Linked DNA regions of Homo sapiens. The protein of the gene in region 1 interacts with the protein of each later gene in a pairwise test. Each region holds a gene or a part of one and is shown in the gene's direction. Other genes may lie near its edges.

The links. The genes of interacting proteins can lie anywhere in the genome.
Region 2: the proteins of CFAP184 (region 1) and TPM1 interact in binary tests that used the Homo sapiens proteins (3 or more experiments, as listed by UniProt).

Annotation. Positions count from the first base shown.
Region 1 is NC_000004.12:7,040,349-7,044,440, reverse strand, and holds CFAP184 (cilia- and flagella-associated protein 184), read left to right. Parts: upstream 1-1,439; 5' UTR 1,440-1,502; coding exon 1,503-3,170; 3' UTR 3,171-3,592; downstream 3,593-4,092. Other genes in the region: TADA2B (transcriptional adapter 2-beta), read right to left, coding at 592-861. UniProt on the Homo sapiens protein: In complex with CFAP263, acts as a regulator of ciliary beating that connects radial spoke 3 (RS3) to the inner dynein arm (IDA) and the nexin-dynein regulatory complex (N-DRC).
Region 2 is NC_000015.10:63,056,247-63,059,746, forward strand, and holds part of TPM1 (tropomyosin alpha-1 chain), read left to right. Parts: intron 1-738; coding exon 739-872; intron 873-3,316; coding exon 3,317-3,434; intron 3,435-3,500. UniProt on the Homo sapiens protein: Binds to actin filaments in muscle and non-muscle cells. Plays a central role, in association with the troponin complex, in the calcium dependent regulation of vertebrate striated muscle contraction.

The DNA of each region.
Region 1 (4,092 bases):
CCTCTTTGTTCATTCTTTACTGACCATTCGCACAAGGTCGTGGGTTGTGGGGACCCAAGCATAAACCAGGCACGCTACCCACAAAAGACTCTGTGCACTGCGGACCACACAGGGCACATGCATACAGTGACAGAAAGCAAACGGGGCCGCCCCAGAGACCCCGAGACAAGCCGCAGGGCGCCCACCGCTCTCCTTCCCTGGTGCTCCCACCGCTTTCTGTCGAGTCTGTGGGCCTGCCTGTCTCCACGAACTCAGGTAAGGCACCGAGTCTTGCCCAACGTCTGCACTCCGCAAACGCCTGTGAAGGCGTCCCTGAAGGTGAGGGAAATGGCTCTGCTGTCAGAAGCCAGCGTTCAAAGCCCCACTCGGCCCCGTCTCGGCTGTGTGACCTTGGGCGCGTCACAGCCTCTCAGAGCATAGGTTCCGACAGGTGCCCGACTATAAACCGGCAGCGTCGCCCTCCCCACCTCCGGGGCCTTCTGGGGTGCGGAGCGAGCGAGCAGGTCCAGCGCTGCCTGCGCGCCCGATTACAGGAGAGGCGCGGGCCTTCCAGTGCCCTAGCCGGGACCCGGCCCCCGTCGCGCCGCTCACCCAGTTTCCGAAGCCGAACTGCTCGATGGCGTCCAGCAGCAGCTGCTCCTCGCGACTGGTCCAGCCGCCCTCGGCCTCGGGCCCCCAGAGCGTGAAGCGCCCGCCGTCCACCAGCTGGTAGCCGTGGTAGCGGCGGTGGTGGCCGATCTCGGCGCCGGCCGAGAAGCACTCGGGGCACAGCTCGATGTCCTGGCACTCGGTGCAGCGGAAGCGCAGCGGGCTCACCTCGGCCAGGCAGTACACGCAGTACTTCTTCCCCAGCTCCGCCATCTTCCCCCGCTCGCCGCCCGCCGCCCGGCCCGCCGCAGCCGCCGCGCCCCCGGCCGTCAGCGCCCCGCCGCCCGCGGGACCCGCCGCCGCCGCCGCGCACGAGCAACCGCCGCCCGCCGCCGCGGCTGCCGCCACCGCGGCCCCAGCCCAGCCGCCGCCAGAGCCAGCCAGCCGGGCCGCGTCCCCCCTCAGTACGCAGGCGCCGTCCGGCCCGGCCCGGCCGCCACCGCCGCCGCAGCTGTCGCCCCGCCGCATCGCGCAGGCGCCCCGCGGGCGCCACCTTGCGGACGCCCGGCCCGCCGCTCTGCGCCTGCGCGCCCCCCGCGCCGGCCACCGCCGCCTTTCCCAGAGCCTCCTGAACGCCCCGCCCCAGGCCCGGCGGTGGGAAATGGGCAGGCAGAAAGCCCGGCGGGGGCGCCACGCCCCTCGCGGCGAGAGCCCACGGCCGCTTCCAATCAATCTCGCCTATCGTCAGCTCGCGGCCTCCCATTGGCTTGCTCTCGCCGGGCAGCGGGGAGAAGGCGCTGGACGACGGCCTGTCGCCTGGCCAATCGCCGGGCCCAGCGCGCGCGCCTTCTGTTGCCCCGGGAAACCTAACAGCGTCCTGCCGGGGTCCGCTGCGCTGGCCGAGCCGGGAGGAGATGGACGTCAGCTCTGAGCACACTAAGGACCCCGGCGGGGAAGGCGGAGACGGGGAAAGCCTGGCCGCGCGGCCGTCCAAGATCAAGGCCAGCTCTGGCCCTCCGACCTCTCCCGAACCCGGGGAGCTGGAGTCGGAGCCGGAGGAGGAGGAGGAGGAGCAAGCGGCTTCGCAGGGAGGCACCGCCGCGGACGAGCAGGCCGAGGCCCCGAAAGGGCTAACGGCAGCCGAGGCTGCGGGCGAGGAGGGGCCTGGAGAGCCGGGGAGGCCGGCCGAGCCCCAGCCCGAGCCCGAAGAGCCGGCCGAGGTTGGGGCTGAGGAGCCCGCCCAGCCGGAGCCCGGAGCCGGGCCCGAGGAACTAGAGGCGGAGGCGGGGGCGGAGGAACTGGAGCAGGCGGCAGAGGGGAAGGAAGTCAGGTTCCAGGCCTCTCTGCCGCTGACCAGGATCGATGAGGAAGAGGCTGCTGCAGCCCCGGAGGCCGAGACAGAGCGGGTGGAGGGGGAGGAAGAGGACAAGGAGGAGACGCAGAGAGACGGCGCGGAGAGCAAGGAGAGGGATGGGGAAGGACGCCCGGCCAAAAGCCAGGAAGAGGGGAAGCGCCTCTATGGAAGGGACGAGTTTGAGGACCTCGAGTGGTCCGAGGAGGTCCAGAAGCTGCAGGAGCAGCAGCTGCGCAGCGACCTCCTGGACCAGTACCGTTCCCTGCTGGTGGAGCGGAACCGCTCCCAGCGCTACAACCTATACCTGCAGCACAAGATCTTCGAGGCGCTGCGCAGAAAGAAGGGCCTGGAGGCCGCTGAGGTGGCTGACCGGGGCGCAGAGGCCGAGGCCCCCGAGAAAGAGCAAGCGTACCTGCGCCATCTGGGCATGCTGGAGGAGCTGAAGAAGCAGCAGGCAGACGACCTGCAGTGGTACCACCAGGAGCTGGGCCAGTTGAAGCGGCAGTGCCAGGAGAAGCTCACCAGGGTGGAGAAGGAGTGGCGACGCTTCCAGGCACTCAAGAAGCAGGTGGTGATGCAGGCCATGGGCAGCTGTCGGATGAGGGGCGGGCGCCAGGCTGCTCTGCGAGAGGTGGAGCAGATCCAGGCGTTGGAGGATAAAAAGGAGAAGGAGATGAGCGCCGTGCGGCTGGAGAACATTCAGCTGAAGCAGAGCCTGGTGCATTTTGAAACCAGGATGAGGACCCAGGAGGACCTGACCCAGGGTCTGCTTCTTATTGACTTTGAACAGCTGAAGATTGAGAACCAAACCTTCAATGAGAAAATTGAGGAACGAAATGAGGAACTTTTAAAACTTCGCAGCAAGGTGACCAACAGTGTGCAAGTAATAACCCACGTGAAGGAAAAGCTGCACTTCATGGACATGGAGAACGCGTGCAAAAAGACACAGCTGGCAGAAATCGAGGCCCAGGCCGCCCTAGGAAGAGACATCCTGACCAAGACGAAGCAAGCCCGAGAGGGGCTGCGGACGGACAACATCAGACTGAATCAGAAGTGCGGCCTTCTAGGCAAGGACTCACTTCTTCGGGACTTGGAAGAAAAGGTGGACAAGACCGAACTGCTTCACCGGCGCCTGGAATCCCTGAAGCGCCACCACGCTAGCCTCACTTTGTCCTGCAGAGGCGTGAGGCAGAAGATCAGGGAGGCCAAAGCCTTTCTCCCTTCTTGACCAGATCGATGAGAAGAGTCTGCAAAACACTTCATCCTCAGGACGTGCTGTCCTGCTTTATTTTACCTTCGTTGCTATTAAAAAGGCCTGTGTCATTTGGGACGGGACTCTATTTTGTATTTATCTCAAAACGTTTTAGCTTCCAAATCAGTGCTGAGCCCAAACCTGGGTTAGGAGTTTTATCTGGGATTGAGCAAAAATAGGTCCAGAAAAGCAAACAAAGGGTGATTTAATGTAACTGACTTCTCATGAAAAACTGTCAAAAGTCTCAAGTCTGAGCAATTCTATAATTTCAGTGATGTAATACTAAAGAGTACTGTTCCTCTTTCATATGTAGGAGGGTTTAAAAGTTCAGCGAATGGGCAAGGTACAAAAAAACCCTGTGCATTAAGCTAATTATTAAATTCTTTGGATTTATTAAATTATGTAGTCCCGAGACACTGTTTCAGTTAGAAGCTCACTAATCCCCTTAGATTAATCTTAAATTTAAGTGATTTTGGGCCGGGCTAGGTGGCTCACCTCTATAATCCCAGCATTTTGGGAGGCCGAGGTGGGCAGATCGTGAGGTCAGGAGATCGAGACCATCCTGGCTAACACGGTGAAACCCCATCTCTACTAAAAATACAAAAAATTAGCCAGACCTGGTGGCGGGCGCCTGTAGTCCCAGCTACTCGGGAGGCTGGGGCAGGAGAATGGTGTGAACCCTGGAGGCAGAGCTTGCAGTGAGCTGAGATCGCACCACTGCACTCCAGCCTGGGCGACAGAGCGAGACTCTTGTCTCAAAAAAAAATTTTTTTTATATGTGACTAGCACGAGCTTAGGGGGCAATAAAAATATCCAGGAAACAGGAGAGATGATAAACAGGAGAGGAGCTGATGTTTCTTCATCGTCCCTTTTTCAATGAAAGGGAGTTCAGTCTACT
Region 2 (3,500 bases), on another chromosome or scaffold:
CTGCTATTGTCTTACATGGCTGAGCCTGGGTAAGTCTTGTCTCAGTTCACACTTCAGGCCCCCAGTGAGTGAGGTGGCCGTGATGACGCTCTTGTTTAACAGGCAAGTAAAGCCAGGGTGTTGAACTCTACGGAAGTGGGCCGGGCGCAGTGGCTCACGCCTGTAATCCCAGCACTTTGAGAGGCCAAGGCAGGTGGATAAGGAGGTCAGGAGATTGAGACCATCCTGGCTAACACGGTGAAACCCCGTCTCTACTAAAAATACAAAAAAATTAGCCGGGCGTTGTGGCGGGCGCCTGTAGTCCCAACTACTCGGGAGGCTGAGGCAGGAGAATGGCGTGAATCCAGGAGGCGGAGTTTGCAGTGAGCTGAGATCGTGCCACTGCACCCCAGCCTGGGTGATAGAGCGAGACCCTGTCTCAAAAACAAAACAAAACAAAACAAAAAAATCTACGGAAGAAAGGAACCATGTGAAAGAGCGTTTGCTAATGATCTGTCTGTCTGATGAGAATTGTGTGTATAGATTTGTGTATACACAAATATGGATGTTCACTGTATAAATCAATGTGTAAATGTGTCCGAGAACTCCAGAGTTGATGAGGGCTTGTAATGCACTTAAAGGTAGCTCACCACAAGACAGTCTTCCTATCTGAAATCAGCATTGCAGTCCCAGCCATTTCCTGAAGCTACCACCCTCACTTTCTCCCCAACTCTGAAATGCTTTTCACTCTCTACCTAGGCTGAAGCCGACGTAGCTTCTCTGAACAGACGCATCCAGCTGGTTGAGGAAGAGTTGGATCGTGCCCAGGAGCGTCTGGCAACAGCTTTGCAGAAGCTGGAGGAAGCTGAGAAGGCAGCAGATGAGAGTGAGAGGTGAGAATGCCTCATCAGCCATCTTTTGCAGCTGCCTTTCCTGGTGGAATAAACCGGAGGGCTCCTGTGATCTTTGAGGTTTAAGAATTTTTCAGTCCCCTGGTGGTGGGATCATTTCCTCTATTGATCCCAGGTATAACTCGGTTGGTTTTGTTCATTTAGCATTAGTGAAACACCTACTATGTCCAAAGCACTGTCCTAAGCCCTAAGGTTACAAAGAAGAAGATGATCTTGTTCCTGCCCTTACAGAACTCACCATCTAATGAGGGAGACAGACATGTAAAGGAGAAATGTCAGGGATACAAGTTGGCCCTTTCACTCCTACTGACCACAGAGCAATTGTGCATTTTTTAAAGTGTAACTTTATTTTATAATATACAAGGAGGCTTAGGTGTAAATAAAGGAACTGTGGACTATCAGTTGTCAAAATAGCTTAACAAATAGGTGGAAGAAAAAACACAAAGCAGAAACATGGTCTGCAAAAGTAAAATATTTTGGACTTGGTCTTAGTAATATACACAACACACATGCACACAAATAGTCAGATGCTCGTGTGTTCTGAGCCCACCTCCACTGTAATCTGGCTGTAGCTGAATTATTACTCAGATTCAGCTTTGTGGTAGTAAAGGAAAGCATGGTTCGTATAGACCAGCACAGCCTTGTGTGGTCTAAAAGGCATTTTCCCTTAAGCTCAACTGTTGGAAGTAAGGATTTGCCATATTGCATAGAAGTACTTCAAGAGAGACTCCATGAGGTGAGAGAGCGTTCTGCCGCTTGAGGGATGGCATAGCATGAAGGGGCTCAGAGCACTGAATGTGTATCTGTCTGTGCTGTGACCTGGGCAAGTGAATGCAGTCAGTCATCTTGTCCATTTCTTACTCTTTGAAGTGACCCTACCACTAGGTACCAGGTATAAAGAGTGATTTCAGACTTTAGGATTAAAGAAGATTTTTAGCTAAACTTTTTAGGCCATTATTCACCGCTGCTTAGTGTTTCTTCGCTAACCAAGCATTTTGGACTTCTTTAAGATGACTAAGCATCTTACAGTGTACGCATAAGAGCAGTTTTGTGGCTGACTTCTTTCTGAAATATACTTGTTAGTGTACCTTAAAGGCAGTCTGGTAATGTTAGACTTCGGAGTAAAGGGGACTTGGGGATCATTTAGTCCCTTAGTTTTACAAATGAGAAAAGTAGGGCTCAGAGGCTGATGTGACTTGCACCAAGGCTCACAGCATATTTGTGGCTAAGCCAAGACTCCGACCCAGATCTCCTCAACTGTATTCCAATGCTTCATCAAAAGATAGTGGGCCAGATGTGGTGGCTCACACCTGTAATCCCAGCACTTTAGGGGGCCGAGGCGGGCAGATCACTTGAGGCCAGGGATTCGAGACCAGCCTGGCTAACGTGGCATAACCCCTAAATCTACTAAAAAATAGAAAACTTAGCCAGGCGTGGTGGTGCACACCTGTAATCCCAGCTACTCGGGAGGCTGAGGCAGAAGAATCGCTTGAACCCAGTAGGTGGAGGTTGCAGTGAGCCAAGATCACACCACCGCACTCCAACCTGGGTGACAGAGCGAGACTCTGTCTCAAAAAATAAAAATAAAAAAATAGTGGTTCACTTATACTGCCTACTTAAATTTTGATAAATGAATTCCATTTTACATGACTTGTTATTCCATATATCTGTAAAATATCATAGGTCATTTAGTATTTTTCTGAAACATTACACCACGCTATAGGACCCTAATATACACCATGCCATAGGACCCTAATACACTCAGTGTAGAGGACAGTGTCAGGCCTGTCTCCCAGCATTGCTGTCATGAAAGGGTTCCATTATAGGTAAAACTTAATTTGATGCATTCAGTTGAACCATAAGAAATTGCCATTATTACTTGTCTGAAATGGTCAAATATCAGCATTCTTTGTGGACTTAATAGTTTATTAAATCTAACATTAAGTCTAATATTTTTGTTTATGGGTGGCAGGGTAAGAAGATTCTTTGTAGAAAGAGGTATATAAAGATAAGTTTGATTTTGTTCTAGCTTTGGTTCATGTGCAAGCTGAGGCTTCCCACAGGAAAGGCAAGAAATCTCATTATCTTTTTAATAGTAAAGCATATTGGCTTTTCCGGTTTCATACTGCCAAGATTCAGACAGATTCCTGACGTGGTACCTTTCGTCATCATTAATGTTAGATGCCTGATAGTTTCATCAGTACTCAAAGTGAGAGAGTTCATTCACAGTGAACAGAGAGAAATGTGTCTCTTTTTTCCACCTTTAGCTCTGGAAATTGTTGTTTCCTGGTTTGGAAAATAAAAGTAGCTCTGTGCTCTATTTTGGTCTACCACTTACACTAAGCCTCACAAGCCACAGCAGTGCAGTGTGCATTTGGGAAGTTCAGCTCTAAATCTTGGGTTTTCTTGCTTGTCTTTCTTTTCAGAGGCATGAAAGTCATTGAGAGTCGAGCCCAAAAAGATGAAGAAAAAATGGAAATTCAGGAGATCCAACTGAAAGAGGCCAAGCACATTGCTGAAGATGCCGACCGCAAATATGAAGAGGTCAGATCCTGGGGCCCAAAGCCTTGTGGACACCCAGCAGTGGCCTTCAGGAAGCCAGGGAGCAAT